Linked DNA regions of Homo sapiens: region 1 is linked to region 2. The links come from fine-mapping of genetic effects on gene expression. A gene starts in region 2. The other region holds a variant in brackets. All regions are shown on one strand. Distances are from middle to middle.

Region 1 (15,852 bases), 130 kb after region 2:
TGATAGCCTGAATGAGAATGAGGATTTTGGGTAACAACCTTGGGGGATGTCTAGGCTAAACAAGGAACAGTTATAAAAGCAGTAAGGAAGACAAATATGCCAGGGTATGGAAGAGAACATGAACCTTCAAGTCACTTAGACCTGAATTTGAATCTCATCTCTGCCACTTACTAGCTATGGGAATTTAGGCAAGTCACACATGAAGCTGTGAGTCTAAATACATTACAGTTGCTGTTAACAATAACAATAATAAAATATATCAAGAAAATAGAGCATTTCTAATTTTAAATGTGAAGCTCTGAGTAAGAAGAGTCAAAGCAGAAGAGTGAGGTATTCAAGGTGAGTTTGGGTTAAGTTTCTTTGCAGTTAAAAGATAGTCATTTAGCAAAAGCTAGTTCTTGCAGAATGTTAAGATTAGAAGCCTGACTTGAGATTTCATGAAAAAAGCCAGTATTTTTAGAAACTCAGAAATTTGAAGAAAAGGACTAGTGAACAATTATACAGATGAAAAAGTATACATATGCTTTAAAGGAGCACCCAAGAGAACATATTGCCATTTTGTAGATCACTGGGATTTAATCTTTCAGCAATCATAACAACAATGGCAACTACTCACATTTATTGAGAATTCATTCTGTGCCAAGAACTGTGCTAAACACTATATGCACTATCTCTTTTAATCTTCACAACACTCCCTAGGAGGTAGATCTCATCCTCTGCATTTTATCAATGAAGTAGGTCACAGACCTGGTAAGTGGCTAGGATTTATTCCCATGCTTAAGCATTATACTGTTACCTCTTGAATTAGTCCACTCATGTAACTGCAGTCTAACCGAAAAGTTCAAATGACCAGGAATTTTTATGTATCTCTATAATGTACAGAATTTATTTTGAAAATGAGGGATTTGTTAAAGTTACCAAAACAGCCCAATTTAGTACCCCTACATCTGCATTTCTATATAATGATAGTAAAGAAATATGGAACCTAAGGCAACTTCTGAATGCATTGGGTATTCAATTTTTTTTTCCAGTTAACCAAGCTCAGTTAACTGGAACCTTTTATTGTTCTAATCATCGTTATTTATATATGTATTTATATATATGAACATAAGGAAATAAATTCAATCAACCAATAAGTATTATATCCAAACAAGCCCAAATGTTTTCTTTCATCTGTTTAGAAGTTTTTCCGATAAAGAATATAACATCTTTTAATTTTTTGCTAAAATTAGAATTTTTACTTTATGTAAGAAAAAGAGCACATTGAAACTATACCATATACTGATCATTTATATAAGATAGTCTTATCTGAAAAGCAATCTATTTTTGATTTGTCTTAAATAAAACTGACATCTTTTAGTAAATCTAAGTTGTCTTTTCTTGGCTGTTAAATCTTTTGTGGGAATAATTAAGAGAGCACTGAGTACAAAATGTTTTTATTTCAACTGTCCAAAAACTAGGTTATAATATATAAATTTCTCTAAAAATATTTGAATGTGGCTTTAAGGAATACTGTGCTGTTCAAGAACTTTGATTATAAGTGAATTCTATTTAATTAAAACTTGACTGCAAAAAATTTTTTGAGTGCTTCTAATTTGTAATGTAATTTGTAATGTGAGAAAAAGCAAATGCCAAAATGCTTTTGTGATAAGATTTCTATATCTGAAATAATGGTCCAGTTAATTTAAAATGAAAGAGAAATACTGAAATTCCTTCACTGGTGATCAGCACTTATTGAGGCTCTGAGGTTTTGTAAAAATGTTTGTAGTTACAGAAGTATTTTATACTTTTTATATGATTAAAATTTAATTTCTTCCCCTATTTTTTGTTTGGCTTTCTTTTGTCTGTTTTCTTTCTTTAATTGAAAAAACTAATGGAACCAAATATAAGATGGTACGACTGTTTTTTCTTTCTTTTGTATAATCTTGTTGCGTGTCTCTACATAAGCTGTTCTGGCCACTCATCATAGTAACCAGCTGGGCCATTTCACCTGCTGGAGCCATTAAAGAGGACTCTCTCCCCCTAGATTAATCCCCTCCGACATTAGTTTTTTGCACTGACAACTAGAGCAGGCATTCAGAATTTGCAGGTGGCCAGTGTGACGCACATAATTGCCTACAATTTTAGGCAATGAATAAAAATGGTCTACATTACTTGTCAAAGGTTGTATATGCAGTGCCAAGTGAGATCTATGGGAAGCCTTTTAGGGTTTAAAGAACAGTTAATAGCAAGGCTGCACAGGGCTTTTTTAATCATAATGCATTTGTAATATAGCACTTTGATCTTCTCCTTGTAGGAAATGGTGTTACATTAGCCACTTTTAAACATTTATGAGTGAAATTCAGTTATAGAAGAGTAAAAGTGATTATTCTTAAGCCGAACATGTTAGATTTCATTAAAAGTTTTCAGCTTGCCCCTTCCTTGTTAAAATCTGTGGGAAGTCCTTTGCCTGGAGGGTTTCAAATCAGGATCTAAGGATATAAGGCTTTTTCCTTATTTTTCCTGTTGGTAACAGCAAAATTTGGAAGGAAGGTATACTAAATATTGAGATAATTTATACAAATGGATATTTAAAGAAGAATAACTGATTATGGTAAAGTAAAATACATTGATAAAAATCCAGGAAATTGATTACTAATAATTGTGTTACAATAAATTTTGAGAAATGCATATTTAAAACATATCCATAAATTATCTTTAGTAACAACAACAACAGACACCCAGATGACTCTCAAATGCACTTCTTCTGGAAGAGCTAAATTTGACCTTTCAGACCCCAGAGCCTTTTATTAACACCTGCCTGTAAGGAGAACCTTGCCACACGCAGCTTTTAGATTCAGAACCACAAAACTGATGAGGAAAGGCTTGAAGGGTTCAGTTTGTGTCACTTGCTGTTTGCCGTTTCCATTTCACAGATGATTAATCTTTCTGTGAAGAAAGGCCAGAGAAACAAAGCACATTGGGCTCTTCCTGCAGTTACTCCTTCTGAATGCACACTAGCTTGCTAACTAAAAGGCCTTTAGATTTCCAGCAGAGAGAGATGTTCTGAAAGTGAATGCAGCTGGTTGGAGGTCACCAGTGCAGGGCTCTTGCCATTGTGTAATGGAGGCTTTGGCAGGTTCGGGGGGTGGGGGAGTTGGGGGTATTGGGGGTGCGGCTGCGGGAGAAGTGGGCAGGGAGAAGGTGTTGGCAAAAAATTAATCTAAAATAAAAAGGGATCTGGTCAGTTGATTTAATATTTTGGAGGCTGGATCATCGATAATAGGCTCAATTTTGTCTTGTTTGTTTTTCTTCTTAGGGGAAAAATATAATTTAGTCTTTCTTCAGTATATCCCCTCACTCCATTTTCTAATAGCATGTTTGTCTTCTATATGGCATCACTAGGTAATATTGAAATGGTAGTAACTCTTGTATTAGTCTTTGATGTAATTGAATTGTCTTGACATTTTTCAGGCTGTTACTAATTTTTGCTAATATTGTCCATTTTATACATTAAAAATTTAATGCCACAATGTTTTATTAGTAATTGGTTTTTAAATGAGATATTGAAAATAATTATTTGTGTGACCTAGCCCCCTTTCATTAAAACAATCTATTTTTATTTTGAAAATTTGAAAACTTTTTAATATTTAGTATCTAAATGTTTAGTTATTCATATATATTTACCTTTTTCTCAATCATGTGTAGGATATAATGTGCAAAGTAAAATCCTGGGTTATAGATCAAAAGAAACCTGTTCGCTTCTATCATGATTGGAATGACAAAGAGGTAAGTTGTAAATATCATGCCATCTATTACTGCCTTTGCTTTCATTTGCTAGGGAACAAATTAGAGTTGTTGTTATTTTACACTTACCATTATATCTAAATTTTTATTTCTGTCAGTGATTGCTTATTCCTGGGCTTGTTATTTTTTTCTTTTCCCCCACTCATGATATTTCATAACCACTAATCTTTTGGAAAGAAGAATTATAAAAATGAAAATGCCTACTTGTTTTAAGGAATGTTTACTTTCAAATTCTTCAGTGATTTACTCCATATTTACTAAACTTTTAAAAGGGATTCTTTCTCCATCTCCCACTTTAGATTGAAGTGTTGAATAAACACTTATTTTTGACTTCAAAACCAATGGTCTACTTGGTTAATCTTTCTGAAAAAGACTACATTAGAAAGAAAAACAAATGGTAAGTTTTTCCTCACCAGATATACCCAGATGCATCATCTCTGTACACACACAAACACACACCCACATATATGTACTTAACGGCAATGTTTAATTTTAATATTTTTCTCCTTATTAAAAAGTTTAAAATGGATGAGAAAGCTGTGCTTGGTATTTACCTTCACAGATGAGTCTTCTAATTGACTTAGAGAACTTAAGAAAAACTGAATTAAATAAGCAATATTGAATTATATACATTTACTTATCAAATGTAAGTTTATTAGACATTATCGTTTATTTCCATTGCAAAATGAGAATAAATGTAGTCACAACAATAAAACTTCTTACACTAGGAATTTCTAGCTGTGTTGATATTATAAGTGACTTTAAAATACCCACCTGGGGTTGTAGCTGGGCATGAATTTTAAAATCCAGATTGAATGCTTTAAAAAAAAAAAAAAAAAGACTGTGTGTGGGGAAAGACCAGTACCTGTTTCAAATGCTTTAAAAGTACATCGAGGTAAAAACTATGCATTCATGTATTGATTGTCATTTTTGGCATGTAACCAAAATGTACAAGATTTGTTACTATCACTGATAACTTCAGAAAATTATATGTTCATGTACCTGTGGGCATGTCCACATTTGGCATACCACTCACTTTGACTTGCCTCACTGGACTCTTAAGTATTTTATACTATTGAGTCATACAAACAAATCAAAACTATCCAAAGCAAAATATCTGAATTCTCCTAAACTATATTGTCTGTTTCTCCCTGTACTTCATTAAGTACTTAGATGCACATGGTTTCAATTTTCCATTAAAAATTCTCATTTCCATATGATATCAAAGAGTGAGAAGGCTTTAAACTGAAAAATAAACATTCATAGACTGGAAGCCAAAACAATAATTAATGTCAGATGGTTAACTCCAATAAATCATTAGAATAAATTCTGTGAAATTACTGCAACTAAAAATGCCCTGTTGATATTACTATAAGACATTTTGTGTTCCTGATAGGAAGATGAATTTAGCCTCTTTATTGGTAATGTTCTAAAAAGCATAAATTTAACATAAAGATTTCATTCAGCTGGTCAGTATCCTCCATCAGGTAATTAACTTTAAAATAATCAGTTCTGTCGCCTTTCAAATTCTTATAAATTTGATGATTAATGTGTTAAAAATTGTTACCTTTAGGAATGAATTTTAAAATTTATTACTTGACCTCAGTTAATAAATCTTCTCATTGTGGTATGAATGGTAAGGTTTCCTGAGGCTCTGTGAAACAATACAGACATCAAAGTTTACATGAAAAGGGATGAGTCAGTTTCCTTGCCCAAAGGGACTTCTCACACCTGTATTTGGATGATTACAGGTAGAACTCCCTGGCTCTAATTGTATAGTAAATACCATTTCCCAGACCCTAATGGTAGACAGACTGCTTAGGAGACGCCAGTCTGTGATTTAGCTGTCGCCAGACACCCCATGTTTTTTGTGAGACCAGTTGTGATGATGACATGGTTATAGCCAATTGAAAGTAAACCCTTGTCTAAATAGCAAATTTTAATTTATAATAATGTAGAGGTATGAATGATCCTATTTTATAAAACCAAATCTTAATAGGTTTTATGTATAACTAATGATCTGGCTTGGGGTTGGTGTGTGTATGTCTTGGGGGGAGGGTTGGGAGGGATCCAGATCTTGTGGAAGTTAGTGTAATTGTAGCTGAAAGATCAAAGACTGGGTAACTGAATGATGTTCCAGAAGAGAATTTACCACATAGCCATTTTCTGTACAGTTTCTGCCGCCTGCTGTTCCTATTTTCCCTCAAGCTAGCCATTGACTACCCCCTGTGCATCCCTGCTCGTAAAAAATGATTGAGGAAGTATTTGTCATATATTTATGAGTGGGAAATATTGTGTGATAGGGAATGGCATCTACTGGAGCCAGAAAGATTGCCATTTTCCTTTCATTCAGCCACTCTGCTACAGCTTTAAATCCTCTCTGTTTATGCAACATAGCCTTTGTATTAAAGTGCAGAATAAATTTTTATTATGAGGGATATGAACACTAGGTTTTCATCATTTATAACACTGAAAGCAGATGTAAATAGTTAAAATCCATTTTAACTACTAAATCCTTTTAATTGTGTTAGCATCTTGTTTTTTGGTAATGTTTACATCTAAGCTCCATTTGCATTATTAGTTGCTTCTTTAGCAAAAGAAAAAGTTTTTGTTTTTTAAGATTAACATGTAATGTTACTATAGCAAATAAGACTGATGCAGGAAACAGTAATAAATACTTTCATGGGTCTTTTAGATCTGGAAAACTATTTTAAACCATCAAGAAAGAGGAGAGGAGAGGTTTGTGACTTTGGCCACAAGAGGAGACTAAAACTGTTGTTATTTTAGCAGGTCACCATTTCAGAAGTATTGAACACTTTAGTTACTGAAGTTCACCCTAAATGTAAATGGTAATGTGTTATTTTTCAACCCTAGAAAAGAAGGAAGCATTTTGAAAGATAAGTCTATTGTGTTATTGAGTAGCTATATTGACATTTTGTGAGATGCAAAAACTGGAATGGCTGCAAGCATTAGTCATTGAATTAGTCATTTCATTGATTTATGACTAAAGACCTAGCCCCTGAAGAGAAGCTGACATGGCAGCCGGGTTGGTTGCAGTTGTGTTATGATCAAATGACAGTAATCAAGATGTTGTAAGTGAATCCACAAACCATTTTTTATTATTACAAATTGCTGTTTCTTGAATGAGTAAAACTATATAGAAGTTTTTGTTGTTTTTGGTGAGCACAAGCATTTTTGAACACTTGAGGTTTTCATTTTCTAAACACGATCAGCTGTTACTTATAACTAAGATTATACTATAGACGGTATTAATTTTCATTTGAGATTGCTTACTGAGTCATGGTGTCAAGCAGGTACAGGACATTAGAACTGTCAAACTACTGCTTAATTAGGGGTTTAAATTTCAATCTTTGCACCCTTGCTGCTCTGTTAGTAGAATATGCCATCCAATTATGAAATCAGTAGAATAAACTAATTTTACATATTTTTTACACCTACCAGCCATCAATTATGTTTCATTT[T/C]TGTGATCCTACCTTTCTTGAAACTGTTAATAAAGGATAATTATATTTTATTATTTATTATACTACATATTTATGTTCAACTGGAAAATATAACTAAACTTTTAGATACGCAGACTGTGTGTGTGTGTGTGTGTGTGTTTGTGTGTGTGTGTGTTATACACACATTTTCATATGCCCTGGTGGGCTTGTAGTCATTTAACATTACCTTTTGGGTAATATTATATGAGTCAATTAATCTGAGTGATGAAATTGATTCAAGATAGGTAGACAAATACTTGGAAAGTCTTTTAAGTTGTTTAATAATGAAGGGCAATGTGTCAAGTTCACTAAATGCATTTTAAATAGAAAAATGTTTTATTATTCTTATTATACCATGATTCAGTTCCTTCCCCTTTCCCATCTTTATGTGTTCATTAGTTTTCCACATAATTTGTACATAACAACTAAAAATAGTTTGGGGATACTACACATTATGTGCTTGGTTTGGGGGGAATCATGGAATAAATATATTTTCTTGATTTCTTGAGCTGCCTATAAAAATTACAGCTACTATATCTCAGTAAGTGTATATGTAGGTGGAAGTGTGTATATTTTTGACACACAATTTTCTATTTCTGTATGTGTGCATATATATACAAACACATATATGCATATAAATATAAAAAACTATTTCTATAGAACTATTGTAGGAGGTCATCAGTTTCTGACAAGATCATTTAAGCTAGAAATATAACACAGACATTCTGCTTTGGAAAGATTACTTTGTATTATGATAAAGCTTATTGTTAACAGTATTATTTATACTATGAATTAGGATTTCAAATAATTTTTTGGTGAATGAATTTTGTGGAATTGATTATTTCTTTCTCTGATCAGAATCTTTAGAATTAAAAAGAATATGATAAAGAAAAATGATCTTTTTATTACAGGAGATGGAAGGCTGAAAGAAGTGGGGATGGGGAAAAACCTTTGCCCATTCAGGAATCTTTTTTTTTTTTCTTTTTTGGTCAAATGTACTTTTGCATTTGAATATATTTTTACATGTAATAATATTTGTGAATTCCTATTTGGTTTTCATTAAATGGGTTTTGAATATTCTTTCGACAATTTCATATTCTTATCGAGAGATAACAATACAGTAGTGCACTTCTGGTTTCTTATGAAAGAGATAATTATATACGAAAGCACTTTTTTTATATGAACATAATGCTACTGACCCTATGCATATTAGGAATTTCCCTTGGCCTGTTTGTATTTTTTGCAATACTATTTATAGCCAATGATTTCTATTTGCCAGATGGTTCACTGAATTCAAGAAAGTGATACATTTGGGAGTGCCCGTTGTAATCTTCATTAGCACCATCTGCTGACTTACTGATTTGTGAGTGATGTAATTTATCAAATATGTCAGGACTTTCATCTTTTTCAAACTAGCTGAAGAATTTCACTCCACATAAACAGGAAAAGTTATATAAAATTTTTTCTAGCTTCCACAGATTAAAAGGTTTATAAGTACTTTTTAAAAAATTAAGTGTTCCTTAGGATTCTGTCATGTGAAATTAAAATATATATTCTCTATACATGTACACACATCTATGTTCTAGGAAATGAAATATAAAGTTTGGTTTATAGCTATCCAGTGTTCTTCAAATTACAAATGATTCATCTACACAAAGAATTTCTTTGCTTCCCTACCCTACTCACTTTGTTGAATAATTCAAAAACAATCCCCTTAAAAATCTGCACTAGAGATTAAGGATCTCTGAGTCATATTTTGTTACCAAAACACTGAGTTGGGATGAGCTACACTTTTACAACCGGAGTTGATATGGTTTGGATTTTTGTCTCTGCCCGAATCTCATGTTGAATTATAATTCCCAGTGTTGGAGGAGGGGCCTGGTATGAGACGATTGGACCGCAGGGGTGGATTTCCTTCTTGCTGTTCTCGTGATAATGAGTGAGTTCTCATGAGATCTGGTTGTTTAAAAGTGTGTAGCACCTACACCTTTGCTCTCTTCCTCCTTCTCCGGCTGTGCCTGCTTCCTGTTTACCTTTGCCATGATTGGAAGTTTCCTGAGGCCTCCCCAGCCGTGCCTCACAGCCTGCAGAACTGTGAGCCAGTTAGACCTCTTTTCTTTATAAATTACCCAGTCTCAGGTATTTCTTTATAGCAATGTGAGAATGGACTAATACAGGAGTTTAGTAGTTGGTGAAGAGGGTAGTGGAGAATTTTGAAGCTCAGAAATCTCAGGACTGTTGGGAGTGGGAAATATAGGGCAGGACCTCGGGAAGGATTTAGAATGGAGGTTCAAGATAGTTTGTAGGATTTGAATAACAGGTTTTCCTGGGAGAAGGGTGGAGAAAAGGAAAGGTGAACAATGTCAGTGTTTTACAGCCTAATGTGTCCTGCTTGTGTGGGATAGGAGGAAGAGCATTATTTGTCTCTACCGTTCTTTCCTGTGCAGCATGTTCCCCAGACACAGCATCTACCTTTGGATTTAATGTTGTAGTTTAACTATTTGATGAGTTAAATAGACTTGAAGCCTAGCCCAAAATGTTAGGGACCATTAATAATATTGTTTCTATAAAGAAAACGAATCCTAAAAAACTGGAGAATATGGTCTATTTGTAACCTAGGGAGTAGAAACTATCAAGGAGTTGGGTGTGTTAAGAAGAATACTACTTTAGAATTTGAAATACAAGTGCTATGGTCTTTATTTGCTACTATAAGTAGCTCTTTGAACTTGGCCATTTAAATTACTTAGCCTTTCATGTAGAAGATAATTCATTGAGATTGTTCATATAAAATGTGTTCTGTATAAATAATGTTTCCCAAATTTACTTATAGCTCAAAAAGTATTCAATAATGGAAAAAGAACTTGTTTTGGCCTTGTGAATGCATCTTTTGGATACATTACCTTGGTTTTTATTTCTGTTATTGGATTAAGGAACAAAATTTATTACATGTATAAATATAACAGTGAGACTCCCATGATATCACTGCCATGTTCTCTACAACCCCATCCCCTCTTTCAGGTTGGGCCCTATAACTTCACCATTTGCAGCTTAGAGGATTTTATTGTCACCCTTGGCTTCCATTAGAGTAAATCATTCTTTGTTTACATTGTTACAATATGTACAGTCTTTATGTAAAATCATGTTACAGTAGCATGATTTTTTAAAGAAAATTGTTTATTCTTTTAAAAACCTTTTAAAACAGTTTCATTGTGATTTCATATATCTCAGTCTCTCTGAGTATGAATGTATGTATGTATGTGTTGGGGGTGAGGCAGTGCAAGTTAGTAAAGAATTAAAGATCATCTCTAAGGTTCCCTTCCAGGGCTAGAATTTTATGATTTTAATGAAGTGTAATGAATTCATAAAGAAAAGATACCCATGCAAATATCTAGGTTTGCCATAGTAACTTTTCCTAATTGCGTACAGAGCATTCCTGAGGTTGCAGCCCAATTTAAGAGCAACTTTTCTGGGCTGGGTTACAGATAAGACCTGATCTTTTTTCCTACTCTCATTCCCTCTTCCATATCTCAGGGCCTTGAAAATAAGCCTTTTCTGCATCTCACCATGTTTCTTCCCATCTTTTATCTTAGTGGGCAGCTGTTGCTTTGGCTAGAATAAGAGCAAAGTGAATTGGCATATCTATATTTGAGATCAGTAACATTACTTAAACTATTATATTCCTTTATTCTAAATTGACCTAGAAAGCATGTCCCATCAAAAACATTAGAATGTGAGACTCACCCTCAAAAGCCTATTTAATTCACAATGTAGTAGAAATAGAACAATTTGAGAAATATTTTTGTATCTGTGACCATTTTTACGACCAGTTTTAAAATTCTGCTTTTTAAAAATGTGTTTTAAAATAACCGACTTATGAACTTTGCATATACTCCTGTTTATATAAGGCTGGGACTGCACATTGCTGTGCAATCTGTATTTTTAATGCTTTACATCAAGAAAAGCAAAACTTGGTAAAAAAAACTGTCATTATAAATGCAAATTTCAAATTTATGTTCCTTTTGAAGACTGTGAGCTCATTGAGGAGGTGGGTACTGTTTTCTTTTTCCTTTTTAAGCAAATAATTATTAAGAATTATTAAGCCCTTCTGTGTGTCATGTATTATCTTAGGTGGTGAACAGAAAAAGCCCTTTCTCCTGGAAGACTTACAGTCTCATGGAGTAATAGACATCCAACAAACAGACATTTAATATAATGCAGGGAATGATTAGGACCGTGAATAAAAACAAAGCAGAGTAAGAGGAAACTGTTTTAGTTAGGGCGGCTGGGGAAGACCTTATGAAATAAGGATACATGCCATGAGAGAATCCATGGAAAGCTCAGTTCAGGGAGAGGAAACTGCAAGTACAAAGGCTCTGAGGTAGCTAGATGGAATAAAACAGAATACGAGTTATAGGAATTGAAGTTGGAGAAGGAAACAGGAGTCAGTTGATGTAGAGCATAATGGGCCATCAAAAAGGAATAAAATGTGAAGACAACCACTTGAAAAAACGTATATGTTTTTATTTAAGTACATACCATTGAAACATTTTAAACATGTTCTAAATGTGTTCTAAAATTTTATTTGGGTTTTAAGAATAACCATAATGTATTTTCTAGTTTGCTTTCGTTGATTTCTTATAGTCCAGAAATATTTTTGATTGCTAAGTGTTTTAAACAGCCTTTAAAGTAATAATTGCAATTTATTTCAAATTTCATCTTTCCTTTTCCATGCTTGTCTAGTGACTTGTTGATTCATGCTACCAATTATGAAGCACTTTTTAAAAGCCCCTCGATGTACAACTTCAAAGAAATAGGTTGAACTTTATTAAGAAATAACAGCAGCCAACATTTGTCTAGAGCCTTACGGTGTTTCAGCTTTTTTATTTCATTTGATCCTCAAATTCCGAGATGACCCTCATTACACTATTACATTGGCCTTGAATTGAATGTTTACTAAAATGAAGCATTTTTTTCCTTTTCTTTTTTTTTCAGAGACAGGGTCTCACTCTCTTGACCAGGCTGGAGTGCAGTGGTGCAATCACAGCTCATTGCAGTCTGGACCTCCCTGACGGGCGCAGGCTACCACACCTGGCTAGTTTTTGTATTTTTTGTAAGAGTCAGGGTTTCCCATGTTGCCCAGGCTGGTCTAGAACTCCTTGGCTCAAGCGATCCACGTGCCTTGGCCTCTCAAAGTGCTGAGATTACAGGTGTGAACCACTATACCTGGCCAAAATGAAGCATTTGCATCATTGGAATAAGAGTTCTGCATATTAGTTTAGGAATGGGTTACTCCAACAGAGAGAGAAATAAGCTTTGTCTTTTCATTAGCAAAGATTTAGCAGTGCCTTTTCAGTACTTTAAATATTTGTCATTGAAATCAAGGGGTAGTCATCAGTATTCCTGGGTGATAATCAGCATTTTCCTTAGAGATTCTTTTAAAAGAATGTATTATGGGGCTGTGGGAAATGTTGTTGGATTTAATCCATTTTGAAATTTAAAAGGAAAAGATCAAATAGCATCTGTTCATTGGTAATCATTTTTAGCCTTTTTAAATGAAATTTTAAAAGATTTTTCCCCAGGAACGTATATGGATGTCCAACATGAAGGTCACTAGCAGTTTTCAAACATGACTTTTAAGTTTTGTCATTTTTCTTTTGTATGTCCTGCTTCCCCGCTTCCTCCATTTAATATAATTGATTTAGCTTTTTTTTTTTTTTTTTTTTTTTTTTTTTTTTGAGGCGGAGTCTTGCTCTGTCGCCCAGGCTGGAGTGCAGTGGCGCGATCTCTGCCCACTGCAAGCTCCTCCTCCCGGGTTCACGCCATTCTCCTGTCTCAGCCTTCCGAGTAGCTGGGACTACAGGCGCCCGCCACCAGGCTGGCTAATTTTTTTTTTTTTTTTTTTTTGTATTTTTAGTAGAGACAGGGTTTCACCGTGTTAGCCAGGATGGTCTTGATCTCCTGACCTCGTGATCCGCCCGTCTCAGCCTCCCAAAGTGCTGGGATTACAGGCATGAGCCACCGCGCCCGGCCGATTTAGCTTTTCTTATACCAAACTAAAAGACATACATAGCAAACCATTATTTATTGTTGAGTTCCTGCTATGTGATGGGCATTCTGAGCTTGGAAATTGCTGAGATGTATGATATTATACTTATCAAGCAGATATTATCATGCCCATTTTACAGATAGGGCAGGCGGTTGGAAAGATTATAAAACATGCCCAAGTTCTTGGAGCAGGTAAGTGGTAGAAATAGATCCATTTGACCTGAATGCGACTGTTCCACACAGGATGACTGACAGCTAAGCGACAGTACAAGATATGTTTGTGAATCTCCAGAAATCTTTGAAAATATCACGTCAGCAACTTTAGCATTTTGCTTTGTTTTATCTCAGAAAGTTTAATCTCCATCCAATTGTTTAGTTAATAAACTAAATTAGGATTTTAGTTAAAAAGAACAATTCTCAAGACAACATTTGTGGGTTTTTTTTTAGGATAATAAGCATTTGCTGCTGCTGTTTTTGCCTTGTCTCGTAATTTTATTAACTATTTAATAACATTGTTAAGAGGCAACAGCAATATATTTTAGGACCCACCTTAGCTTGCATTTTTACGCAATATCATGTATAAAAATTTTGGTGGAGAAAATACAATGGCTCTTATTGAAACCGAAATTAAAAATTATATGAAATTGCCAAGTCTAAAATAGTGGTACAGAATAAACCCCCCAAAAACATACCTGTAACCACAGATTGGTTTTTATATATTGATATGATAAACAGGATTTAACTTTTTCTGTTATAGCAAACCATAATTTGTTAAAAATAATTATTTGACTGGGCACAGTGGCTTAAGCCTGTAATCCCAGCACTTTGGGAGGTTGAGAAGGGTGGATCACCTGAGGTCAGGAGTTTGAGATCAACCTGACCGACATGGTGAAACCCCATCTCTACTTAAAAAATACAAAAAAATTAGCTGGGCTTGGTGGCGGGCACCTGTAATCCCAGCTACTCGGGAGGCTGAGGCAGGAGAATCGCTTGAGCCTGGGAGATGGAGGTTGCAGTGAGTCAAGATCATGCCATTGCACTCCAGCCTGGGCAACAAGAGTGAATCTCCATCTCAAAAATAGTAATAATAATAATTCTTCAGTGATGGGGTGAGGGAGTTGATGTTATAGAAATAGGGAAATGAGAGAATATCACGTGTTAGTTTGTTTTCTGCTGCTGTAACAGATACCACAGACTAGGTAATTTATAAAGAAGAGAAATTTATTTGGTTCATGGTTCTGGAGCCCAGGAAGCCTGAGAGTATGTCACTGGCATCTTCTGAGGGTCATCCCATGGCAGAAGAGCAGAAGGCAGAAACAAGTGGGAGACAGAGAGCAAAGTGGGTCAAACTCATTCTCTGTATCAGGAGTCCACTCCTGAAATAACTAACCTACTCCCATGATTACAGCATTAATTGCTTCATAAGGGGTGAGCCCTCATGACCTAGCCACCTCTTAAAGGTCCCACTTCCCAATCCCATTGCACTGGGGGCTTAGGATTCCTAACACACGAACCTTGGGGGGCACATTCAAACCACAGCACTATGAGGTAGAGCAATGGCAGATAATTTGTATGCCTAATGTTGTATTTGTAGTAGTCGTCATTCAGTCAACACTTCACACTTGACCTTATGCCAGTTATATTTAAGATTCCCAACAAGCTTGTAAAGTAGGTGCCATTATTACCCACATTTTAAGGAAATGAAAAGCAAGTATGGAGAGATTAAGGAACTTGGCCAAAGTTACATAACCAGTCAGTGGTGCCGACATCCAATTGTAAGCAGTTCATCTGCAGAGCTCATGTTCCTCACTAACTGCTAAGCCATAGTATCTCAGCACTGGGGCACTGGTGATGCTGGAAAGGTAGACAAGGCCTGAGAAATGTGTCATATACCAGTCACATTTCCTATTACTATGAATTTCATTTAGGTAAGGTTTTGTTGTTAGACAGTTCATGCACTATAAAATCTGAGACTAAAAATTCATTATAACCTAATTAGAAAATGCCAACTGAGAGTGGTATTTTTTAAAAAATTGTACCTAAAATTGTATCTTTAATTGTATGGACTTCTCTCTAAAAACTATTTTCCAATTTAATAGCCATTGTAGGGACAGTACATAAAAGAGTTTATATATTTTTATATTGAAAATACATATTATTGCTACTTTTCTCAAGAAAACTACTTTCTTCAACCACTTGTTTTATTTGTGTATTTGTTTTTAACCATGTACTGACTTATTCTGTTTCCTTGCATTTTCACTAACTTGGATTTGTTTTTGAGAACTACTTTGGGAGTAGGGAAGTGTGTGAGACTGTGTGTGTTTGTACATATCTCCTTTATTAGCTGAAATACAAATGGATGTTTTGTATAATGTTCTGGTTTAGTACTATATTAGTGCATAGCAATATAATGAACATTGTATACGTATATGTATATGTATATGTACATGTACATCCAGGTCGGGCAAAACTAATGACTACCATTTGTTGAGCATCTATTATATGCTGCACTTTGGGGTGT
Region 2 (15,852 bases):
TGGGAGGCGGAGGCTGCAGTGAGTCGAGACTGTGCTATTGGCTCTAGCCTGGGCAACAAGAGCAAAACTCCAACTCAAAAAAAAAAAAAAAAAAAAAAAAAAACAAGACTCATCTTAGAAGGCTAGCCTTGATTATAGTATTTCATATATAGGTTAAGCATCCTAATCTGAAAACCTAAAATATTTCCAAATCTGAAACTTTAAAAAATTGACATACAATAATTCTGCATATTTGGCTGGGCACGGTGACTCAGGCCTGTAATCCCAGCACTTTGGGAGGCTGAAGTGGGCGGATCACCTGAGGTCAGGAGTTTGAGACCAGCCTGGCCAACATGGTGAAACCCCATCTCTACTAAAAATACAAAAATTAGTCGAGCGTGGTGGCACGTATCTGTAATCCCAGTTTACTTGGGAGGCTGAGGCAGGAGAATCACTTGAACCTCGGAGGTGGAGGTTTCAGTGAGCCAAAATTGTGCCATTGCACTCTAGCCTGGGTGACAGAGTGAGATTCCATCTCAAAAAAATAATAATAATTCTGCATATTTATGGGATACACACATTGATACATGTATACAATGTCTAAGGATCAAATTAGGGTAAGTGGGATGTCCATTACCCCAAATATTTATCATTTCTTTGTGTTGTGGACTTGCTTTTTTTTGAGATAGGATCTCGCTGTGTCGCCCAGGCTGGAGTGCAGTGATGCAATCACAATTCACTGCAGCCTCGAACTCCTGGGCTCAAGTGAGCCTCCTGCCTCAGCCTCCAGAGTAGCTGGTACTACAGGCATGCACCACCATGCCTGGCTAATTTTTAAATTTTTTTTCTTTCTTTCTTTTTTTTTTTTTTGAGACAGAATCTCACTCTGTCACCCAGGCTGGAGTGCAGTGGCACGATCTTGGCTCACTGCAAGCTCTGCCTCCTGGGTTCATGCCATTCTCCTGCCTCAGCCTCCTGAGTAGCTGGGACTACAGGCACCCGCCACCACGCCCGGCTAATTTTTTTTTTTTATTTTTAGTAGAGACGGGGTTTCACCATGTTAGCCAGGATGGTCTTGATCTCCTGACCTCGTGATCCCCCCGTCTCAGCCTCCCAAAGTGCTGGGATTACAGGCGTGAGCCACCGCGCCCAGCCTAATTTTTAAATTTTTTTGTAGAGATGGGTTCTTGCTATGTAGCTCAGGCTGATCTCAAACTCCTGGCCTCATGTGATGCTCCTAACTCAGACTTCTGAGTTGCTGGGATTACAAGTGTGAGCCAACGCCCCCAGCCTGAAACATACATTTTGTGTTTAGAGTTGGGTCCCCTCCCCAAGATATCTCATTACATATACGCAAATATTGCAAAATTTAAAGACATTTAAAATCTGAAACACTTCCGGTCCCAAGCATTTTGGATAAAGGATACCCAATGTGCATTACAATACCAAATTCATTCAGAAAGAATGTCCTTCACGAATCTATTTCTGAATGAATAGTGGGTTAGGCATTATCACTATTTATCAATACCTAATTTTCCTCTACTTCTGGGTACAAGGAGGATTCCCAGTCCCTTGAGGTTAGATGTGGCCATGTGATTTAACTTGGCCAATGACATGTTACATTTGGGTAACAGCACCTTGATATGGAAGGGTTTTGAGATGGAAGCATCCTGAAAAGTAATGGGCCAACTCATGGACAGCTGGCAGATCTCCAGTGGACTTAATGGAAGAAAAGAATTTTATTCTGTTAAGCCCCTCAAATTCTGGAGTTGTTTGCTATTATATTATTATATAGCCTATTCTGAGTAGTACAAGTATTCTTTGAAATGAACGACACAGGTTCAAAACTGCAATGAAAATGATACATTAAGCTGAGCTGATGTTGAGGCCATGAATTGGGTGACCTAGGCCCATGCACAAGATTCCCCAATTTCCAGCTCAACCGATGTGACCACTGTGACACCTTTTGGTAAGCAACCTTCCACTTCCATGATGGGAATTTTTAGTATCTTGTAAAGGTTAGTAGACATATTGTTTTCACATGCTGTCATTTTATAACACCATTAAGTGTTGTTAGAAGATGATCAGTTTTCTTCAATGTTTTCTCAGTGAACTAGGTGTGCCAACGTTTATCATATTACAATTTGTATATATCATATCAGATGACCACCAATGCCACTGATATTTTCCAGAATTACCATACTCTGCTCAATGTGTTATCTTGAAAAAATGGTTCAGGAAGTGAATATTGCTGGTGTCCTTTTCTTATACAACCCTGCTTTTGCTCAGATATCTATCCATACTTCACACAGCCATGTGCCTCAGAGGAAGTTGACTTCTCCTCTAGTCCCAAGGATGGACTAAATGGTCTAAGGGTAAGTTCATTTTCCCTGCCAGTGTCTGGTTCAGGCACAGGCATGAGACCCAATTTTGCCCAGTGAAATAGAAGAAGTTATCTGGAGAGATCTGAAACATGTTTCCCTTTTTACTAAAAGAGAGCTACTGAAAGAGATGGTCCCACTCTACCCCAATATTGTCATTCTGGTTATGCTGCCTAGAACTGCTATCATAGCTTGCTGTTAGCTTAAGAATAAAACCAGGGAAGCCCAAGGAAGACAGGGACATTATATGGAAAGAACTAGTCTCCTTGCAAATAGTGTTGAGCTATTGAATCTATCACCCTTGTTCTCCCGCTCTGTACTTTCTGTTATATATGATACATTTTCATTGAATCAAAACTTCTGTTATTTATATCTCAAAGTATTAGCTAGCTAATACAATGATAATATATTTACTTTCCTGGATTAGGATATGTCTTTTTATGTTGCCTCTGAGAAAATAATATATATAGTTTTCTTTTAAGAATTCCTAAATTGAGGCTGGTCATGGTGGCTCATGCCTGTAATTCCAGCACTTTGGGAGGCTGAGGAGGGAGGATTGCTTGAGCCCTAGTACTTTGAATGTAGACTGAGCAACATACTGAGACCCTGTCTCTACCAAAGAAAAATAAATTAGCTGGGTGTGGTGTTATGCACCTGTAGTCCCAGCTACTTGGGAGGCTGAGGTGGAAGGATCTCTTAAGCCCAGGAGTTCAAGGCTGCAGTGTGCTATGAACAGCCCTTGGTGAATAGCCACTGCACTTCTGTGAATAGCCACTCCATTCCAGCCTGGGCAACATAGGGAGACTTTGTATCTTAACAACAAGAACAAAATGATTCCTAAATTTTAAACCATGAATTACAATAGATATTACAAAACTCCAGCAGTTTCTAGGATACATGGCTCTTTTAATCAGCATTCTTTCAAATACTATGAGAAATTCTAGAATAGAAGCAATTGATTACTTGTGTTTTACTTCACTGGTAACTTATGGTCCAAATTCAATAACTCAAGAAACAGACTCTTCAAGCATAAGAATGACAATGGAAAATCTGGGCCGGGCACGGTGGCTCATGCCTGTAATCCCAGCACTTTGGGAGGCTTAGGAGGGTGGCTCAATTGACTCCAGGAGTTCGAGACTAGCCTGAGCAACATGGAGAAAACTCGCCTCTACAAAAAATACAAAAAAAAAAGGCCTGTCATGATGGGGCACACCTGTAGTCCCAGCTACTTGGGAGGCTGAGATAGGAGGATCGCTTGAGTCCAGGAGGTCGAGACCGCAGTGAGCTGTGATCTGGCCACTGCACTCCAGCCTGGGCAACAGAGCAAGACCCTGTCTCAAAAAAAAAAAAAGAAAGAAAGAAAATGGAAAATCTGTTTCTTTGCTGATGCCTAAGAGGGTCTGAGTATTGCTGGTGATGGAAAAGGAAAGGGGATGATGATTAGGCACTGCCTCGTACATAATATCAGAAGTTGTGAAGGTAAGTGAAAACCAAGATGGTTTATTTTAAACTTTCAAACTGTAGTTATTTAGGTATCCTTCTATATATTTTATCAGCTTCTTATATAATTATTTGTGTAGTCACTTATTTGTCTACTCCACTAGATTGCTAGCTCCTTCAGGGCAAGGATTATATATATATATATATATATATATATTACAAAACAAACAAACAAAACATATATATAATATATTAATATAAATATATATATTTATGAATATATAAATAAATATAAATATATAATATATTATATATTATATATATTATAAAATATATTATATATTATATATTATAATATATTATAAAATATATTATATATTATATATAATATATTATAAAATATATTATATATAAATATATATTTATGAATATATAAATAAATATAAATATATAATATATATAATATATTATATATATTATAAAATATATTATATATTATATATAATATATTATATATATTATAAAATATATTATATATTATATATAATATATTTTATATATTATAAAATATATTATATATAATATATAATATATTATATATATTATAAAATATATTATATATAATATATAATATATTATATATATTTTGTTTGTTTGTTTGTTTTGTTTTTTGCTTTTTTGAGATGGAGTCTCGCTCTGTCACCGAGGCTGGAGTGCAATAGTGTAATCTCGGCTCACTGCAAGCTCTGCCTCCTGGGTTCACACCATTCTCCTGCCTCAGCCTCCCAAGTAGCTGGGACTACAGGTGCCCGCCACCACGCCTGGCTAATTTTTTGTATTTGTAGTAGATATGGGGTTTCATCGTGTTAGCCAGGGTGGTCTCGATCTCCTGACCTCGTGATCCGCCCACCTCGGCCTCCCAAAGTGCTGGGATTACAGGAGTGAGCCACCGCACCCGGCCAATCATATTTATCTTATTCTTCACTACTCCAAGGCCTACAGCAATGCCTGGGATGGAGTAGGTGTTCAAGAACATAATTTTATATAAAAGACAATAACAAAAATGTTCAGAGTAGGATATTCTAAGCATATGGGACTATCCTAGTCCTTCATCTGAATTCTGGATATGATAGTAAGCTTAGTGTAGAGAGAGAAAAACATCTGATACAGGTAATAAAAGAAAAGTGCAATTTAAGTTAACTACCTATATAGGGTAGTTATTTTTGTGCACTTGTCCCCTTCCCCTCCTAAAGTTATTATCAGGACTCAATTTCCCTTTTAGTGTAGTTATTACTATTATTCTGTTTTCTGTTATGCCCCTCACAGATGTGGACGGGGCTGGCCAACAGGTGTAGTCAGGCCGTGCTAGCACATGGTGAATACGTTGCTGCTATTTTCCTCTTTTCCTTCTCATCCTCTCTCTTTGTGTACTCTTTCTGTCTCCTGTTGCTTAGCTTTCTGCACAGGATCAATAAATCTCTGAATTTCCAGCAGAGCTACTCTGTATTTGGGGATAAATTACTGACCCCAAGCCATTCTCTAGATCCTTTGTGACCTTAGGTCAACTCACTTGATCCCTGGTCATTGGCTGAGCCTGGTAAGGAAAGAAAAATCCAGAGAGGGTAACGATAGCAAAGAGTGAAACCATGGGCTCTACTTTTTTTCATTCCATTGATCTTTCCTTAGTAGCAACCTTCTGTTGACCTGACCTGATGGTCTATTCTCATTCCCCCTCTGACTGAAATCTTTTGCTCAGTTTTCATTCTAGACCACATCTGATTCTTTCCTCTAGGTTTAACTTAATCATTGAGCCCAATGGGTACTAAATAGACTTCCCTTTGTGCAAAGGCTCAAAAACATGCTTTCCTCTATTCAAAGTCCCTTTTTTAGGCTTGGCATTAGTGTTAACTATTTTTTTGTGTGTTTGTTTGTTTTTGTTTTTTTTTGAGACAGAGTTTTGCTCTTGTTGCCCAGGCTGGAGTGCAAAGGTGCAATCTCGGCTCACCGCAACCTCCGCCTCCCGGGTTCAAGCGATTCTCCTGCCTCAGCCTTCCCGAGTAGGTGGGATTACAGGCATGCGCCACCATGCCCAGCTAATTTTGTATTTTTAGTAGAGACGGGGTTTCTCCATGTTGGTCAGGCTGGTCTTGAACTCCCAACCTCCGATGATCCGCCCACCTTAGCCTCTCAAAGTGCTGGGATTACACGCATGAGCCACCGTGGCGGGGGCCAGTGTTAACTACTAATATCCTGTTTGTTTCACTGAGTCTTCCTTTAGCGTTGTAGAATAGTAGATACCCACTAGGGTCTTTTCTGAGAACTATGTGTTTCGTTGGTAGGCAGGGAGAGGTCACTCATACAGCTTTTTGACTATGTGACCCTTACCCACGTAGCCATTGCTGATGGGACCCTTGTTAGAACTTTACCAGAACTGGGCCAATCACATCTTCTTTCTTGTGAATACAAATTTACCCCCAGTGACAGTGAGTTGGAAATGGAGTCCTATTATCAGGCAAGTGTTGGCAGCACCAGCTGGCCACTCCTGAATACTGCCTGAGATTTGTGTAACCTGTTTTGGGAAGGCGCTTTAAAGGTGGTTAAAAGTGCAGGTAAGAAAGATGTAGTTATAGAGAAACAAGTGATTAAGAACTTGATAGTGTAGATTTAAGGAAATGGGTAGATCTGAGAGATTCTGATATTGAAGAAGTATCTAGATTTGGCCAAAAGACAGTGATAAGTTGAAGATGATTCTAGTACTCCATGACCGGGGAACATTTTCAATCAGTATTGGAGTGGCTGGTTGCTGGGCAGAGAGGGCTCTCTGGGATTCTTGAGTTTTTTTTTTTTTTTTTTTTTTTGAGATGGAGTCTTGCTCTATTGCTCGGGCTGGGGTGCAGTGGTGTGATCTTGGCTCACTACAGCCCCCGCCTCCCACGTTCAAGCGATTCTCCTGCCTCAGCCTCCCGAGTAGCTGAGATTACAGGTACCCGCCATCACACTCAGCTCATTTTTGTATTTTAAGTTGAGACGGGGTTTCATCATATTGGCCAGGCTGGTCTTGAACTCCTGGCCTCAGGTGATCTGCCTGCCTTGGCCTCCCAGAGTGCTGGAATTACAGGTGTGAGCCACCAGACCTGGCCTCTTGAGCTTTTTTTTTTTTTTTTTTTTGAGACGGTGTCTCGCTCTGTTGCCCAGGCTGGAGTGCAGTGGCGCAATCTCGGCTCACTGCAAGCTGCGCCTCCCGGGTTCATGCCATTCTCCTGCCTCAGCTTCTCCGAGTAGCAGGAACTACAGCTGCCCGCAACCACGCCCGGCTAATTTTTTGTATTTTTAGTAGAGACGGGGTTTCCCCAGGGTCTTGATCTCCTGACCTCGTGATCCGCCCGCCTCGGCCTCCCAAAGTGCTGGGATTACAAGCGTGAGCCACCGCACCCGGCAAGCTTTTTAAGTAATGGTTCCTCTCTATTTCCACAAGCAGCAGTGTGAATCCACTATAGAGCTTCATTACTAAAATATCAGTACATGATTCAGGAATCACTTTGAAGGGCTGTTCCTGAGAGTTATTTTCACAGTGGCCACAAAATTTGGGCTAGTTAGCCCTCTTTTTCATAGTTAAAGTGCACCAAGATAGCTGTTTTATACATATATAGTTTTGGTGACAAGGGTACTAGACCAAGAATATAAATAGGGCACATTAATATATAATATTAAGAAAAAGTAATACAAAACCAAATCAAGTTGCCTGTGTCCTTGAGAATTTCCAAAATTGTAGAGAAAGCTCTTTAACTCACCTCACTAGAGCACTGTTACAGGGCTAAGGAAAAGCCTTAATGCAATTTTATTATGAATACTGGCTCAGAGCTTATAGGGAGTCTCTATTTGAATGAATTCTCGTCTGGGTGCGGTGGCTCACGCCTGTAATCACAGCACTTTGGGAGGCCGAGGTGGGTGGATCACAAGGTCGGGAATTCGAGACCAGCCTGACCAACATGGTGAAACCCCGTCTCTACTAAAAATACAAAAATTAGCTGGGTGTGGTGGTGTGCACCTGTAATTCCAGCTACTTAGGAGGCTAAGGCAGGAGAATTGCTTGAACTCGGGAGGCGGAGGTTGCCGTGAGCCCAGATCACGCCACTGCACTCCAGCCTGGGCGACAGAGTGAGACTCCATCTCAAAAAATAAAAATGAATTCTCGCTGAAAGGAAACAGATTTTTCAGATAGTTTTAGTTTTACTTTTTATTTGTATTTATTTTGTTAGAGATAAGGTCTTGCTCTACACCCAGGCTAGAGTGCTGCGGCAGTGATCATAGCTCACTGCAACCTTGAGCTCTCAGGCTCAAGCCATCCTCTCACCTCAGCCTCCTGAGTAGCTGGGACTACAGGTATGTGCCACTACACCCAGCTAATTTTTGTTTTTTGGTAGAGATGGGGTCTCACCACGTTGTCCAGGCTGTTCTCCAACTCCTAGGCTCAACTGATCCCCCTATCTTGGCCTCCCAAAGTGCTGGGATTACGGCCAGATTTTCAGTTAGATTGTGGTTTGAAATATGCTGCTGCCATTTACTAGTTGTGTGACTTCATCCAAATTAATCAACCTTTCTGATATTGTTTCCTCACTTGTAAAATGGGGATGGCGACCTATTTACATCCTTTAATATTAATAGCAACTAATCCCTTTAAAAGGAGCTTCTAGTGTCACAATTTTTGGACAGGTATCATATTCATTACAACAAATACCTGAATGACATCTGAAGGCCAGGACCTAAATGAAAGAATTCCTTCTCCAGTGGCGCTCATGGTATTGATATGATGTGGGTGAGATGGGATGAAATCCTAATATTAACAACAGCGACTACTCACAAGCCTTTTCTGTATGTGCTGAGTACTGTTGTTATGAGCTCAACACGCATTGTCTCATTTTATTCTCACACGAATAACCTCATAAGGTGGTTTTAATAGCCTCATTTTATCCAGAACGAAATTGAAGTCCAGAGAAGTTAATTTGTCTAGGGTCATACAGTCAATGAGTGGCGAAATCCAGATTGGAAATTCCCAAATTTCAAAGGCCCCTGCTCTCAACTACCAAGAGGAAAAGGGGGGAAATTGGCTCAATTAAACGCATTCTGTGATCCAGTACCTGTGTGCGACGCTTTAACTATAAGGCGAGGAAGAAATCCCTAGACCAAAGTTTCCCTTAGCCCCTTTTCCTTCAAGAACTTTTAGTTAACAGCTTCTCTCCGCACAGACTGAGCGAATAAAGTTATAGAAAAGGGAGATGGGCTAGCGGCCACGCGGTCCTCGGGGCTGGTGTGGCTGTTTGCCTGACTTCAGACGCCCCGGATCTCCCGGAGGGAAGTCAGGGCCCAAGGCACTCCGCAGTCCAGCTGGGAAAGCTTGGGGCTGTAGGCCCGCGAGTGAACGTGAGCAGGTAACCCAGGCCGCGCAGCCAGACGGAAGCGGAGACCTAGAACCGAGAAGCCCACGTGCCGAAGCGGAAGACTAGAGCTCCCGGGAACGGCCTAGCCAGCGCCTTCCCCTCTCCAGCTCCCTGCCGCCGCGCGGCTCCTCCCACCCTGGGCTCCTCCCGCCCTACTCCCGCCTCCCCGGCCGGTTAGGCCAATGGGCGGGACGCGCGGGCAAGGCGGGGAGGGGCGGGGCCCATGGTCTGCGCGCAGGTGCCGCTCGGCGCCCGGCCCGCCCGTTCCGCCGCTGTCGCCGCCGTCGTGCGTGCCGCTCGGCGGAGGGGACGGGCCTGCGTTCTCTCCTCCTTCCTCCCCGCCTCCAGCTGCCGGCAGGACCTTTCTCTCGCTGCCGCTGGGACCCCGTGTCATCGCCCAGGCCGAGCACGGTGAGGCCCTCAGGGAGCCCGGGGGCGCGATCTCCGCCAGGTCTTCGGCGCCTGGGCTCATTGCCCTGAGGCTGGCGCGGGGCCCGGGCCCAGTGGCCAAGATGGGGCCAGGGCAGCGGGTGGCTTGGGGATGTGTGGATGAATGAGGCGCTGTCGGACTAGGCCGCGCGTCGGGAGATCGGCCTACGCCTCACGCGGGAAAGCCCTGGGGAAAGCCTTCTCCCGACGCCAGGACGCCCGGTGGCCCAGTCCGGAGAGGAGGATGGGGGGTGGGGCCCACTTTGGGTGGGCTGCCGGCCACCTCTCTGTAGGCCAGAGGACCCGACAGGCGCTGTTCCTGTATCTGTTCTTTGGAGGCCTGGGAGTTGGCCAGGAACAGGTGTCAGGACGCTGAGAAGGGAAATTCCTGGCCCTCGGGGTCAGGGATCAGAGGCTGGAATACTACTGCAAGGGCAGGGCCCCAGCGTGGTCCTAGGAGGTACAACTCTCAGCCAGAAGACTGGGACAGTTTTAGTTCCCAGCTTCTGAGACGTGAGCTTAGCGGTCTTTGTGATTTCACTTTGCAGTCCAAGGGTGGGAGTAATTCTGCACGCATGATTTGGAGACAGAACTAGTAAGGGACAGAGAAAGTTTCGACTTGTAAATAAAAAGGTTCCGTCGATTAATTTACCATTAGAAATAGTAACCATAATGTAGATTTTGGAGGTTGCTTATGAGGACTGATGAGCCGTACCTTCAGTGCCAAAGGTGGGAGGGACTTGGTGGAAGGACCCCAGTACCTGGTGGGTGTTCATCTATGTGAAAAATGGGGGTTGTGGGCGAATGGGAAAGATAAGATTCCAGATTATAGAGGAATGGTTTGGTGTGAAGGGTGACTTGGCTGCTGGTGGTTCCACAATGGAATTTTCTTTGACTGTCTTCTGTGTACTTGCTTCCAAATGCTTTCTTTCATATAACCATATATCAGGTTAAGATATAAAGTGTTTTGTGAGCAGTCTGGATGGAAGATTGGTAGCTAAACTCTAAGTTTATCTTTGATTCCTGGTGCCACAAATATTTTATTTATTTATTTATTTATTTAAGACAGAGCCTAGCTTTGTCGCTCAGGCAGAGCCCAGTGGCGTGATCTTGGCGCACCGCAACCTTCGCCTCCCGAGTTCAAGCAGTTCTCGAGCCTCAGCCTCCCGAGTAGCTGGAATTACAGGCTGCGCGCCTGATGGCCGGCTAATTTTTTTGTATTTGTTTTTCTTTTTAGTAGAGACGGGGTTTCTCCGTGTTGGCCAGGCTGGTCTCGACTCCTGGTCTCAAGCAGTCTGCCCACCTCGGCCTCCCCCTCCCAAAGTGCTGGGATTACAGGCCTGAGCCACCGTGCCCGGCCCAACAAATATTGATTTTAGATCAGTCTTTCTGGGACTTCTCAGCAATGACTCTTTTGACAACGGATATGTTTACAGAACTTTTTAAACATTTTTGCTGAAAAAAAAGTGGATTTAGCTCTGTGTTAGTTTTGGATCGCTATATACAGTATGTTTTGTTCTTAATCTTAATTCAATAATATATTGTATGTGATGAAATGTGTTTTGGGTCCATGTGGATAGTAAAAAGTTTTGTTCATATGTTTGCTTTGGTATTTCAGATGCCCCCTAAAAAGGGAGGTGATGGAATTAAACCACCCCCAATCATTGGAAGATTTGGAACCTCACTGAAAATTGGTATTGTTGGATTGCCAAATGTTGGGTAGGTGAACGTTGGGGCTTTTGTGATTTTCATTTTGTAAATATTTTGGGTCCTATTGTAGAAATGGGAACCGTGAGGTAATTAAACTTTAAGTTGAAGAAAAGAGGCCAGGAAGCTGGACTATTAATATTGCAAAATTAGGCTTTAGTTTAGATGTATTTTATTGATTTCAGTGCTGGTTGGCTATGTGTGGTACCTACATAGGCTGTCTACCAGAGGCCATGCAGTAGGCTACTTTAGGAAATTGATTTGAAAGCTCCACCATAATAAGCTTGATGGAGAAGGAGGTGACAGTTTTGAATTTCGTAGTGGAAATCGTAAAAGGTTTGCTGTTATAAAGAGTCTAAATCTGAAAGTTCTGAGAGCAGAAATTTGAGTTTTGTAATATTTTCTTTTCTTTTTCTTTTTTTTTTTTGAGATGGAGTCTCACTCTGTCGCCCAGGCTGGAATGCAGTGGCATGATCTTGACTCACTGCAACCTCTGCCTCCCGGGTTCAAGTGATTCTCCTGTCTCAGCTTCCTGAGTAGCTGGGATTACAGGCGCGCACCACCACGCCCAGCTAATTTTTGTATTTTTAGTAGAGACGGGGTTTCACCATGTTGGCCAGGCTGGTCTTGAACCCCTGACCTCATATGATCCACCTGCCTCAGCCTCTTATAGTGCTGGGATTACAGGCATGAGCCACTGAGCCCAGCTGTAATGTTTTCAAAGTTACAGTGAATTGAATATATGCAAATAAGAGAGTGATAGGAAATATATGTGGGGTTTATCATAACTCTATACACACGCAACTTAAGTGTTCAAAGTCTTCTTTTTTTTTGAGATGGAGTCTTGCTCTTTTGCCCAGGCTGGAGTGCAGTGACGTGATCTCAGCTCACTGCAGCCTCTGCCTCCCAGGTTCCAGCAATTATCCTGCCTCTGCCTCCCGGGTAGCTGGGATTACAGGCATGTGCCACCACGCCCGGCTAATTTTTCTATTTTTAGTAGAGACGGGGTTTTACCATGTTGGCCAGGCTGGTGTTGAACTCCTGACCTCAGGTGATCTGCCTGCCTTGGCTTCCCAAAGTGCTGGGATTACAGGTGTGAGCCACTGCACTGGGTCCAAGTGTTCCTTTTTCATTATTTATCCTTTCACTAACCTTAAAATATAAAACATCTCAAAAGTGATTAGGGTGTACTAATAGGTAGCAGATTCAGTGTGGATTTGTGAAAGTGATCAAGGGTGGCCTTTTAGATTGGTGGCAAGTAGGACAATCATGTTCTTAGGTATTCCGAGGAGCTCCTGTCATAGAGATTCCTCAATGAACAGAGCATGGCGTGACCAAGTGAGGCATGTCTTAAATTCATGTAATGTAAAACATGAGCAAGTGTGGCTGTCCTGATTTCAGTCTTTCCTGGAGCTTGAAGAGGTTTTCATTTTGAAGGGGTTTCCTGCTGTGATATAGTCTGCTTGCAGAGTAAGACTAAGTAGAGAGTTGAAATGTAAGCAAAACAAATAATTAATCAAAATACTGTAGGGTGCTATCAATAAACGTGAAAGCAAGCTATGATCATTATTTATGTTGTGAGCTTTATTGCACTAGTAAGGAAGTTAAGTTTTGAGATATTGACATACTTCTCATTCTAGAATTGTTGCAGTTACTACAACTTGATTTTAAATGGGACTATATTAAAATGGGCCATATTAAGTGTTTTCTGTACATATAGGCAACCCTCTGTATCTGTGGTTTCACATCCTTGGATTCAACCAATCTCAAATCAAAAATATTTTTTTAAAAAATTGGCTGGGCATGGTGATTCATGCCTGTAATCTCAGCACTTTGGGAGGCCGAGGTGGGTGGATCACTTGAGGTCAGGAGCTTGAAACCAGCCTGGCCAACATGGCGAAACCCCATCTCTACTTTAAAAAAACACAACAAAAATTAGCCGGACATGGTGGCAGGAGCCTGTAATTCCAGATACTCGGGAGGCTGGGGCAGGAGAAACAGCTTGAGCCCGGGGGGTGGAGGTTGCAGTGAGCCAAGGTCCCGCCACTGCACCCCAGCCTGGGTGACAGAGCGAGACTCCGTCTCAAAAAAAAAAAATTTTTTTTTAATTAAATAAAAAATGAGAATATAACAGTAAAAAAAATAGTAAACAACTATTTACCTATCATTTACATTGCATTAGGTATTATACTACACCATTGTATATAAGGGACTCAATCTGCTGGAATCTTAGAACCAATCCCCTGCAGCTATGGAGGGACGACCATAGCTTTTTAGTCATAGAGCATAATGAAATTAATGTACGTGGAAGTAACCTAAAAATATTTTATTATTCAGAATAAGTGTGTGTGCTGTTTACACTTTTAAATAAAATGCTTTCCCCTCCCAGTGTCATTGAGGTATACTTCACAAATAGTAAAATTCACTCATTTTAAAGGTACAGTTTAATGAGTTTCGGCAATTGTATTTGGTTGTAAACACTACTTTTTGTAGAATGATCTTACTTCACACAACTGTATCAGGTAGGATTCTTTGTAAGCAACACAATTCTGGCTGTTTTCAGCAGGAAAAAGAGGTTTATTGGAATAAGTGAATTACAATCTGAACAGCCAGGCCTCAAGAGGGATAAGAGCCAAGTGGTGCTGGCAGAAATGGGTCCATGTGGAGCTCAGCCATGTGAATCCCTGGATTTCTGGGTGTTTCTCATTTCCTGTCTCTCCTGTAATTCCAATTCCTGAGTAAGGAAATCCGACCGGACTTGTGTGCTTCTGTATAGATCTACAAGATATAGATTGTGGGAGGGAGACGGTTCTCTAAAGGATGGCCTGCTGATCAAAAGTAAGGACATTCAGTACAAAACCATCTAGAGAATCTCTTGGTTTTTAGCTGGGTGAATAGGAAGGCTTACTTTTTAGTCTGCATAAGGCTGATGACCCAGAAACTTAGAGGTAATATTTATAGCTAATCAGATATTGAACATTTACTATATGCCAATCGCTATTTTGAGTACTTTATATATATTATCTAATTTAATAAGTGGTTTGACATTCCCCTCCATTGCAATTTAAATTCTGTGAAGGTAGGAAGGTACCGATTGTCTCGTTCTTGCTTATTGGTATATTTCTAGTGCCTAGACTGGTGTTAGAAACATAGTAGATATTTAGTAATTATTTGTTAACGGGACACGATGGTGTTAGGAACATAGTAGATATTTAGTAATTATTTGTTAATGGGATACATATTTCCCCTTTGACGGCTGGATGTAGATTTAGTGATAAGGAGACATGTTTTTGTTTTTTGAACAAGATTTTATTCTCTTGCCCAGGCTGGAGTGCGGTGGCATGATCATGGCTCACTGCAGCCTAAATCTCCCGGGCTCAAGCAGTCCCTACTCCTCAGCCTCCTGAATAGCTGGAACTGCAGGCACACAAAACACCGTGCCTGGTTAATTTTTGTATTGTTTGTAGATGGAGTTTCACCATGCTGCCCTGAGGCTGGTTTCACAGCCTGACCAGCGTGGTGAAACCCCATCTCTACTAAAAATACAAAAATTAGCCAGGTGTGGTGGCACGCCCCTGTAATCCCAGCTACTCAGGAGGCTGAGGCAGGAGAATTGCTTCAACCTGGGAGGCGGAGGTATCAGTGAGCTGAGATCGCGCCACTGCACTCTAGCCTGGGTGACAGAGCGAGACTCCATCTGAAAAAAAAAACAACAAAAACACAAAAAAGCCTGTCTCCTTGCCCCGTGTGGTGGCTCACGCCTGCTGGAATTACAGGTGTGAGCCACCGTGCTGGGCAATTAAATGACCTCTTTTAATGAAGTAGAAAGAATATGGAGATTTGGTTTCTAGTTCTGTACTGCTTTTTCTTACCTGAGTGACCCTTTATAAATGAGCTCCTGTTGGAGCAGTGTATTATTGTGGTTGTGAGGCTTAGAGAATATTGGGGGCGAAAGTACGTTTTGATACAGTGTTCCAAACTTCTTTATTTCTGTGAGGGATAGCTCTTCTTGTTGCTATCCACTGCATCAGATGGGATTAGGTTCAATTAAGAGCATCAGAAAACCCCAGATAACCAGTTTTTTTTCTTCATGTAAAAATGTACATTTTGCAGTCATAGCTTGGTATAGTGGACCTGCTTTATGAAGTCCTCAGGAACCCATGCTCCTTTCACTTCACAGCTTGGCAATCCCTAGGATGTGGCCTCATCCTCATGGTCTAGAGCTAGGGTTCCCGAACCTCATGCTGGGGACTGGTACCGATCTGTGGCGTGTGAAGAACCAGGCTGCATGGCAGGAGGCGAGCAGCAGGCGAGTGAGCATTCCCACCTTAGCTCCACCTCCGGTCAGGTCAGCAGCAGCATTCGATTCTCAGAGGAGCGCAGGCCCTGTTGTGAACTGCGCATGCAAGAGATCTAGGTTGCACGCTCCTTATGAGAATCGAACTAATGCCTGATGATCTAAAATGGGGCAGTTTCAT

Evidence for each region. PIP is the estimated chance that this variant, and not a neighbour inherited with it, causes the effect.
Region 1: its variant is fine-mapped to the expression of OLA1 in whole blood (INTERVAL, PIP above 0.99).

The regions. Positions count from the first base shown.
Region 1 is chr2:174,111,511-174,127,362 of GRCh38, reverse strand. It overlaps OLA1 (Obg like ATPase 1), which reads left to right. Exons shown (of 11, transcript NM_013341.5): 6 at 3,688-3,768; 7 at 4,086-4,183. Among named protein-coding and RNA genes, the nearest start is that of LINC01960, 94 kb to the right of the region's middle. RefSeq lists enhancers at 1,728-3,354, 4,627-6,547. The variant T/C (reference allele first, on the strand shown) is at 7,269.
Region 2 is chr2:174,242,249-174,258,100 of GRCh38, reverse strand. It overlaps OLA1 (Obg like ATPase 1), which reads left to right and starts at 9,569. Exons shown (of 11, transcript NM_013341.5): 1 at 9,569-9,649; 2 at 11,286-11,386. The coding sequence starts at 11,286. RefSeq lists a silencer at 9,264-9,783.